Linked DNA regions of Homo sapiens. The protein of the gene in region 1 purifies or fractionates together with the protein of each later gene. This does not show direct contact. Each region holds a gene or a part of one and is shown on either strand. Other genes may lie near its edges.

What was found.
Region 2: the proteins of GBX1 (region 1) and GABPA purify together in Homo sapiens (affinity purification with mass spectrometry; one large-scale study listed by BioGRID and IntAct). This does not show direct contact.

The regions. Positions count from the first base shown.
Region 1 is NC_000007.14:151,161,082-151,164,908, reverse strand, and holds part of GBX1 (homeobox protein GBX-1), read left to right. Parts: intron 1-3,827.
Region 2 is NC_000021.9:25,737,972-25,741,798, reverse strand, and holds part of GABPA (GA-binding protein alpha chain), read right to left. Parts: intron 1,920-3,827; exon of another isoform or gene 1,767-1,919; intron 1,403-1,766; exon of another isoform or gene 1,312-1,402; intron 239-1,311; exon of another isoform or gene 227-238; 5' UTR 201-226; coding exon 124-200; intron 1-123.

The DNA.
Region 1 (3,827 bases):
TTTCAACACTAGGAGTAATTTTCTTTAAAGAGTTTTTAATATTGAGAGTGAGGGGAAACTGGAATTTATATAAAATGACAGAGCTTCATCATCCGAGGAAAATGTTGAAAGCAAAAAAAAAAAAAAAAAAAAGAGGGAAATTTGTGTTGTTCTTGGAGTAAAGGCAAGGAATTTTTTTTGCCAAGAATAATGGAAAGGAGAACTTACAGAGGAAGAATTTTGAAAAAGTGCTGGAATAAAGGTAATCACTCATGCTGGGAGGAGATACATGTAAAGGGTTTATAGTGGGGAGGCTGGGACACAGTAGTAAGGAGGAGAGACTTCAGAAGAAACATTCAAAGAGCATGAGGAATGAGAGCTCCTATCTGTGACGGCTGCTTCTGTCACTCTCAGTAAACACGCTTCCAACTCTTCCTGGGCAAGCCATTCATATCCACCTTCCCAATCTTGAGTTTTTCCAGAAATCATTGAGAAAAGAAAATGCAATTCCAGAAATGAGAGACATAATATCAATTTGGGGACTGATGACACATGACCCAGGCTAAAACTGGTTGGAAAACAAATACTCTGTTTTGGGAATTGTATTAAAGTATTTGGAGTGAAATGACAGAGCTCTCTGCTGTGAATAATGGGATTGAAACCTCAACATTAGAAGAATTTGGAGAAATAATGCAATCTTTAAAATGACAGAGGAGAAATTGTTTTCCTTGTGTGAATGAGTGACATGGGTCTGAAATTATTATTAATTTACATTTGTTTAGTGTTTTACAACTGCTAACCCGTTTAAATAAAATCATAGTGTAGATAGGCCAATTTGGAGAATGATTAGTGATTTTCTTTGGGAATTACAGGGACTATTTTTTTTAATTTGTTGAGAGTTAAGACAGGTACCATTCTCTACTAGAACTGAGGAAGGATAAAAGGAACTTTGTTATGACTTGATTGCAGGAGTAGAAGCTATATTAGCAGGTGAAAAGAAATATGATATATAGAAGTAATTGGGTAGAAAGTTATTGAAAATGGTAGATTGAAAAGAATCACAAGTTTGGAATGTGGGAAGCAGTGGGGAAAATTGAGAGAATGTCTTTTAGTAAGAGTAATAAAGAGGAGAGAATTCCGAACTGTTAGGAAAGATTAAAGTATGACTCAATAGAAGAGCCCAAAGCAGTGCTGGCTAGTAGAGATATATGCAAGCCATATATGTCATTAAAAATTTTTTATTAGCCACATTAAAAAGATAAAAATAGGTAAAATTAATTTTAATTTTATTTAACTCAAGATGTCCAAAATATTATTTCAACATTAATCAATATTAACATTTTAATGATATAATTTTATATCTTCTTTTCATATTAAGTCTTCAAACTCCAGTGTTATTTTACACTTCCAGCACATCTCCATTTGGACTAGCCATGTTTCAGTTGGTCAGTAGCCACAGGTGAACAGTGGTGACCGTATTCAACATGACGGATCTAGAGAGTTTTAAGAACAGAGTTATGTGAAAGTGATGGAGGAAAAGGAGCTTTGAATTGGATAATGGGTCCTCAGTGTATTAGGAATAATGGAGAGAAGAGAGCAGGAAGCACTAAATGACAGGAGAGAACAGAATTCTGTCTTAGGTGGGATGGGCAGAGATTATCTCGTGTGTCTGACGGTTTGTGTGAGCTCTGGCTGAGAGTAATCAAAGCTAACTTGCTGTGTGCAAGATGTGGTGCAGATATGCATCACAGCAACAGTGGGTGAAAAGGACGCTATGTGCTGGGCAAATGATGAAAAGAGCCGTGAATGTGGAGAAATGTAGAAAGCTGGGCGCGGTGGCTCACGCCTGTAATCCCAACACTTTGGGAGGCCGAGATGGGCAGATCACCTGAGATTGGGAGTTTCAGACTAGCCTGACCAACATGGAGAAACCCCATCTCTACTAAAAATACAAAATTAGCCGGGCTTAGTGCCGCATGCCTGTGGTCCCAGCTACTCAGGAGGCTGAGGCAGGAGAATCACTTGAACCCAGGAGGCAGATGTTGCAGTGAGCCGAGATTGTGCCATTGCACTCCAGCCTGGGGGGCAACGAGCAAAACTCCATCTCAAAAAAAAAAAAAAAAAAGGCAGAAGAAAACTTTGAGTTGGGGGTGTCTAGAGCAATTATTCACTCAGGGGAAAAAGAAGATTGGATTGCCTGAATGCAAAAGCTTAGGAAGTGAGGAATGGTAGCTACTCCATATATATTTGTTAGATGGATGACAAAAATGTAGTGAGAGATTGACGTGAAAACTAATACCAGTATTGGGCATAGTGAAGAAAACATTTGTAGTTTAAGGTTATATAGAAGATATGGGAATATGATGGGACAAACTTGAGACATGCTGTTGTAGTAAACATTGTTTTTTTAAACTAAGCTTAAAAAGATTTGCTAATTTCTGAATACAGATTGGCAATAATAATTGAAATCATGCAAGGAGACCGGGGAGACTTCCTAGGAGCCTCGTATTCAAGTGCTGATTACCGTAAGCTAAGCACCTGAATGTAGCTAGGGAACATTTGGATGACCATTAATTAATTTCTGAATAGGTATCCATTATGATTGTCAAGATATGATATTTACTTATGAGAGGAAAACAGAAAATGATAATATGACGTGGAATTAGAGAATTATGTTGTTAGAAACAAGAGGGAGATTTTTGGGGGAAGTGATGGAGATCCAGAGTATGTTTTCCTAGAACTTTTGAGCATACAGTCAGAGTGATTGCTGCATTGACATTTATAGAAAGGCAAATACTGCATTAACTTAATGTGATTGATGGAACATTTGTTTAGGAGTTGTGACACGTGGATTCAATTCTCACCTTTGTCACTCATTAGTTGTATAATTTTGACAAGTCACTTAGTTCAATTCAGGGAACATTTATTGTCTGTCTATTACTACAGACTTAGTATATTTGAGACACAGTGGGAGATTCAAAGTCACATGACTTCTCTAGGCTTTGGTTTCCTCAGCTGGGCCAAAAGTTTTGGTTCAGATGATTTTTAATGTTCCTTTCAATTCTCTAGGCCTCAGTGTTTAAAGTAGAGCTCTCAACCTGGACTCCACAGACCTTTCATCAGGGGATCTGTTAGCTATGGGTGGGAGAAAATTTATACCTTTATTTTTTATCACTTCAACTATGAATATAGGCCAAAAATCATAGTTGTTTCAGCGTGCATGATGTTTTTGTCAGTGAAAGAAATCACAGATAGTTTGATATACATTTACAGTCTTTGGAGGGACCTTGTTTAATGAATAAAGAAACATGATTATATCACAAGTTCTGTTTTAAACTATATTTTAATATACTTGACTTCAAATGTAATACTATGTATTTTATGTTGTATGTCTAAAAGCATTATTCTAGAAAGTGTTCATAGGCTTTACCAGACTGACAAAGGACTTAAGGGCACAAAAGGGTGAAGAACCCCCTGGATCAGAGATAGACCTCAGGAGTGACAACAGGAAAATTTTATTAGGAGGATTAGAATCAGAGGCTAAGATGCCCTGTGCCATAGTGAAAGTAACCCTTCAGGGGTTGGCAGAGAGAAAGAGTCTCTAAGGTGGCACATGTAAATATGGAGATATATATAATAGATGATTAGGAGGAGGATTCTTATACTTGGAGTGGCAGGCATGAGTAGACTATACTGGGAATAATGCAGAGAGGTAATATTTGGAATAATGGGGGAAATATTTTAATTGGAAAGAAGGAAGAACATGCATTGTGAGCAAAGTGCTTTGCATTGAGAGAAATGTTACAATAGGAAGCAAGAATTCTGCCTGGGAAGTAATAGGAAAAGAA
Region 2 (3,827 bases), on another chromosome or scaffold:
TTATTCCCTAAAATACTGAGAACAGTTAAAAAAAGACAGTCCAAAAGAACTATGACTTGTTTCCTGGTTTTAATTAGGTATATTGATATTTTGAAAAAAAATGATAAATTCAGAAACACCAACCTTTCTTCTGTGCACTCTGCTTTCTCTGTTCCATCAATCTCAATTTCTATCAGCTCCTCTGCTTCTCTTTTAGTCATGGCTGGAGTATTTCAAAGGATCAGTCCTGCAAGAGTGACTTTTTAAGATATTTTAAAACTATCCACATAAACGAAATGACACACAAGAAGTAGAGACCCAATCCAAATAAAAAGCAAACGCCAAGCAGAAGAGGGGGAAGTAGTCTTTACATATAGAAGAAAATCAGCTGGGTGTGGTGGCTCATGTCTCTAATCCCAGGACTTTGGGAGGCCAAGGCAGGCAGATTGCTTGAGCCCAGGAGTTTGAAATCAGCCTGGGTAACTTGGCGAAATCCTGTCTCTACTAAAAATACAAAAATGAGCAGGGCGTGGTGGCACGCGCCTGTAGTCCCAGCTATTAATACTTCGGAGGCTGAGGTGGGAGGATCACCTGAGCCCAGGAGGCTGAGGCTGCAGTGAGCCATGATCGCACCACTGCACTCCAGTATGGGCGACAAGAGACCCTGTTTGAAAAATAAAATAAAGAAAATCCACAAATGACATTTATAAACTAATTTTTTAAAAAACTGGTGTTTATTAACCTGACATGACAACTTCATTAATCTACTGGATTTACTGAGATGTTTTCGGGACCAATTGCAATCAACAAGTTACCTCAAAATTAAGTTAAGGGTCTGTTAACTATATTAAAGCAACTCAGTCTCAATAACAGATTCAAACCTGAAGCTTAACATGGAGATGAACTATGTTTATTCAGCTGAAAGTTGTACCTTAGTAGCAGAATTTACTGCAAAGTATCACACTGATACAATGATATGCAAATTAATCAGCTAGGATTTGGTACAAATGATGTCTCTTATAAATGCAAGAATATTATAAAACAGCAAAACAAAGTAACAAATTACAGATATGCACATTATTTCCCTGATTACACACAGTAGAAAATTTTTAATGATTTTTTCAGAGGTGGTTTTATTTTAAACAGACCACTACTTCAGTTTTTAATTATCCCATGTAAAATTTTTATCTATTGCTTAAAACCACTGATACAAAAACATTAGAATTTTAAAAATGCTAAAGAATACACAAATAGCTAATATACATAGATATTTCTTTGTGGACATGTCTGAGGTGTTAATACTGTTAAGTACCAGGTTCTGTTATTAACTACCTCGCAGTAGGTCAATGAATGTCTTTGAATTCCATACGCACTTTCAGTCCACAGCACCTTCTGAGTAGTTATTCTAAGCGTACTACCACATCTAAAAAGAGGCGTACCTTTAAAAGGAACGCTCCACTAAATTTGGTATTTCGACATTTACAAAAGAGTTGTGCTCCCACTTACAAGATTTCACTAAATGAAGAATTTAAATGTTCATTTGTATTAACCATTACTCGCCGAGCATCAGGCACTGCATTCAAATGCTTTGCATAGAGCAATCTTATTTTGAGCTCCATCTCATACGAACGCTATTCAGAGGTGAGGCTAAACCACTTGTGGCTCCATGTCACAGTTTTGGTGTATCAACCTAAGTAGGTATCATTCCAGATGGGGATGAACCATGGTTGTCCAAATATAGGCTCTGTATTGCGTATATCAGTACAACAGCCACCACCACCCCTTACCTGGAGTACTGCAACAATCTCCTAAAGGGGGTCCCTGTGTCCACTCTTGTCCCCTCACAGTCTATTCTCAGTCAATACAACGGCCAGAGTGTGATCGTTTTTAAAACGCAGCTAGGGCCAGATACGGTGCCTCATGCCTGTAATCCTAATACTCTGGGAGATCGAGGAGAGAGGACTGTTTGAACCCATGAGTTCAAGACCAGCCTGGGCAACATAAAAAGAACCTGTCTCCTATAAAAACATTTTTAAAATTAGCCAGGCATGGTGGTGTGCAACTGTTGTCCTAGCTACTTGGGAGGCTGAAGTGAGAAGATCGCTTGAGACCAGGAGTCGAGGCTGCAGTCAATGATGATCGTGCCACTGCACTCCCTCCTGGGCAACAGCGAGACCCTATCTCTTGAAACAAATAAATAAAAGTAGAAGGTCCTTAAAAGTAGAAGAGGAAATTGGAAGAGAGAGCCAGAGTGATTCAATGTGAAGATCTGCCGGTTAGCTGTGACTGGCTTTGAAGATGGAGGAAAGGAGCTTTGAGCCAAGGAATGCAGGTAGCTTCTGAAAGCTAGACAAGGAACGGATTCTCCCTCGAAGGCTCTAGAAAAACAGCACTGGCAACACCTCATTTTAGCCCAGAGACCTACTTCATATTTCTGACTCCAAAACTGTAAGATAATAAACAGGTGGTGTTTTTAAGCCACTAAATTTGCATAATTTGTTACACTAGCATTAAGAAACTGAGTCTCCCTTCCCACTTTAGAAAGGGCTATAACTCTCCTAAGTTCTCAATATCTCCAACTATGGGGTAGCTGGTTTTCTGACAAATAGCTGGCACCCAAATCTAGACTGCCTGATACAAAATGATCTAATTTTTCCCACGTAATTAAGGTTGCTCTCAGGCTTGCCCTTTAAGGACGAACAATAAAAGGGTAAGGTTCTCCACTGGGATGGACGCATGCATATGGAGCAGACTGCGCAGGCTCCGTTCACAAGCACATCTAGCCGACTGCGCAGATTCTGTTCACGTGCATATCTAGCAGAATGCGCAGGCTCCAGCAGGCTTTTTTGGGGATGATGAAGAAATGAAGACCCTCTGTTTTTGGTTTTTTTTTTTCTTGCTGATGCTGGTCTAATAAGCCTTCCTTTTCTCCAATAAAGCCTATTCCTTAACTGGTGCTATGTGTAAAATTGTGGAATTCATCCTGAGGGCTGAAGAAAACAGGTGGAAACCGAGTAGGGATCTACCTTGAAGGACAACATAAGCTTCCAGGGCAAGAATATGTGTTCACAAATATATACAAAGTACTCTGAAGAGTACTACCTTCAGCAGGCACTCCACCAATATGTGTTGAATAAATGAATAAGAACTATTTCACACCATATAAAATGAACTACACATGCCTTAAAGGATTAAACATACAAGGCAAAACTATGAAACAGAAGAAAATGGTGGGGACATTTTTGTGGTCTCAGGATAGAAAAAGATTTCTTAAATAAAATTCCAAGAACATAACCGTAAGGAGAAAAATCTGATTACATAAAAATCAAGATTTATGTTCAACAGACAGGCTACAGAATGGAAAGATGTTTCCAATACCCAAAAGTGACGATGGAATAGACAATGGCCTGGAATTTGATAACCAAAAAAAGGGACAAATTAGAAAAGTAGTTAAAGCATAGGAAAAGGATATTCACATAACGGGAAACCAAAATAACTCAGGATACAAAGAAATGCCCAAATTCAAATCATTCAAAAGTTCAATTTAAAACAAGAAACTACCACTTTATACCATGTGTGTGTTGGGGGCAGGGGGCGGCGGCGGCGGCAAATGTCAGAAAATTAAATAACGAGAGCAGTTAGCAGGGACATAAGATTCCCCTATCTCTGGAGATGTGGTGTACACACAGGTGTAGACATTCTGGAGAAAAGTATATCAAGCATACTCATACCTATAACCCAGCAATTTCATCCCTAACTAAGCATTCCAGAAAAATTCTCAAATTGGTTAACAGGATTGATTGACAATGTTCAGGGCAGCTTTATTGGTGACAGCTGGTGCCAATCCA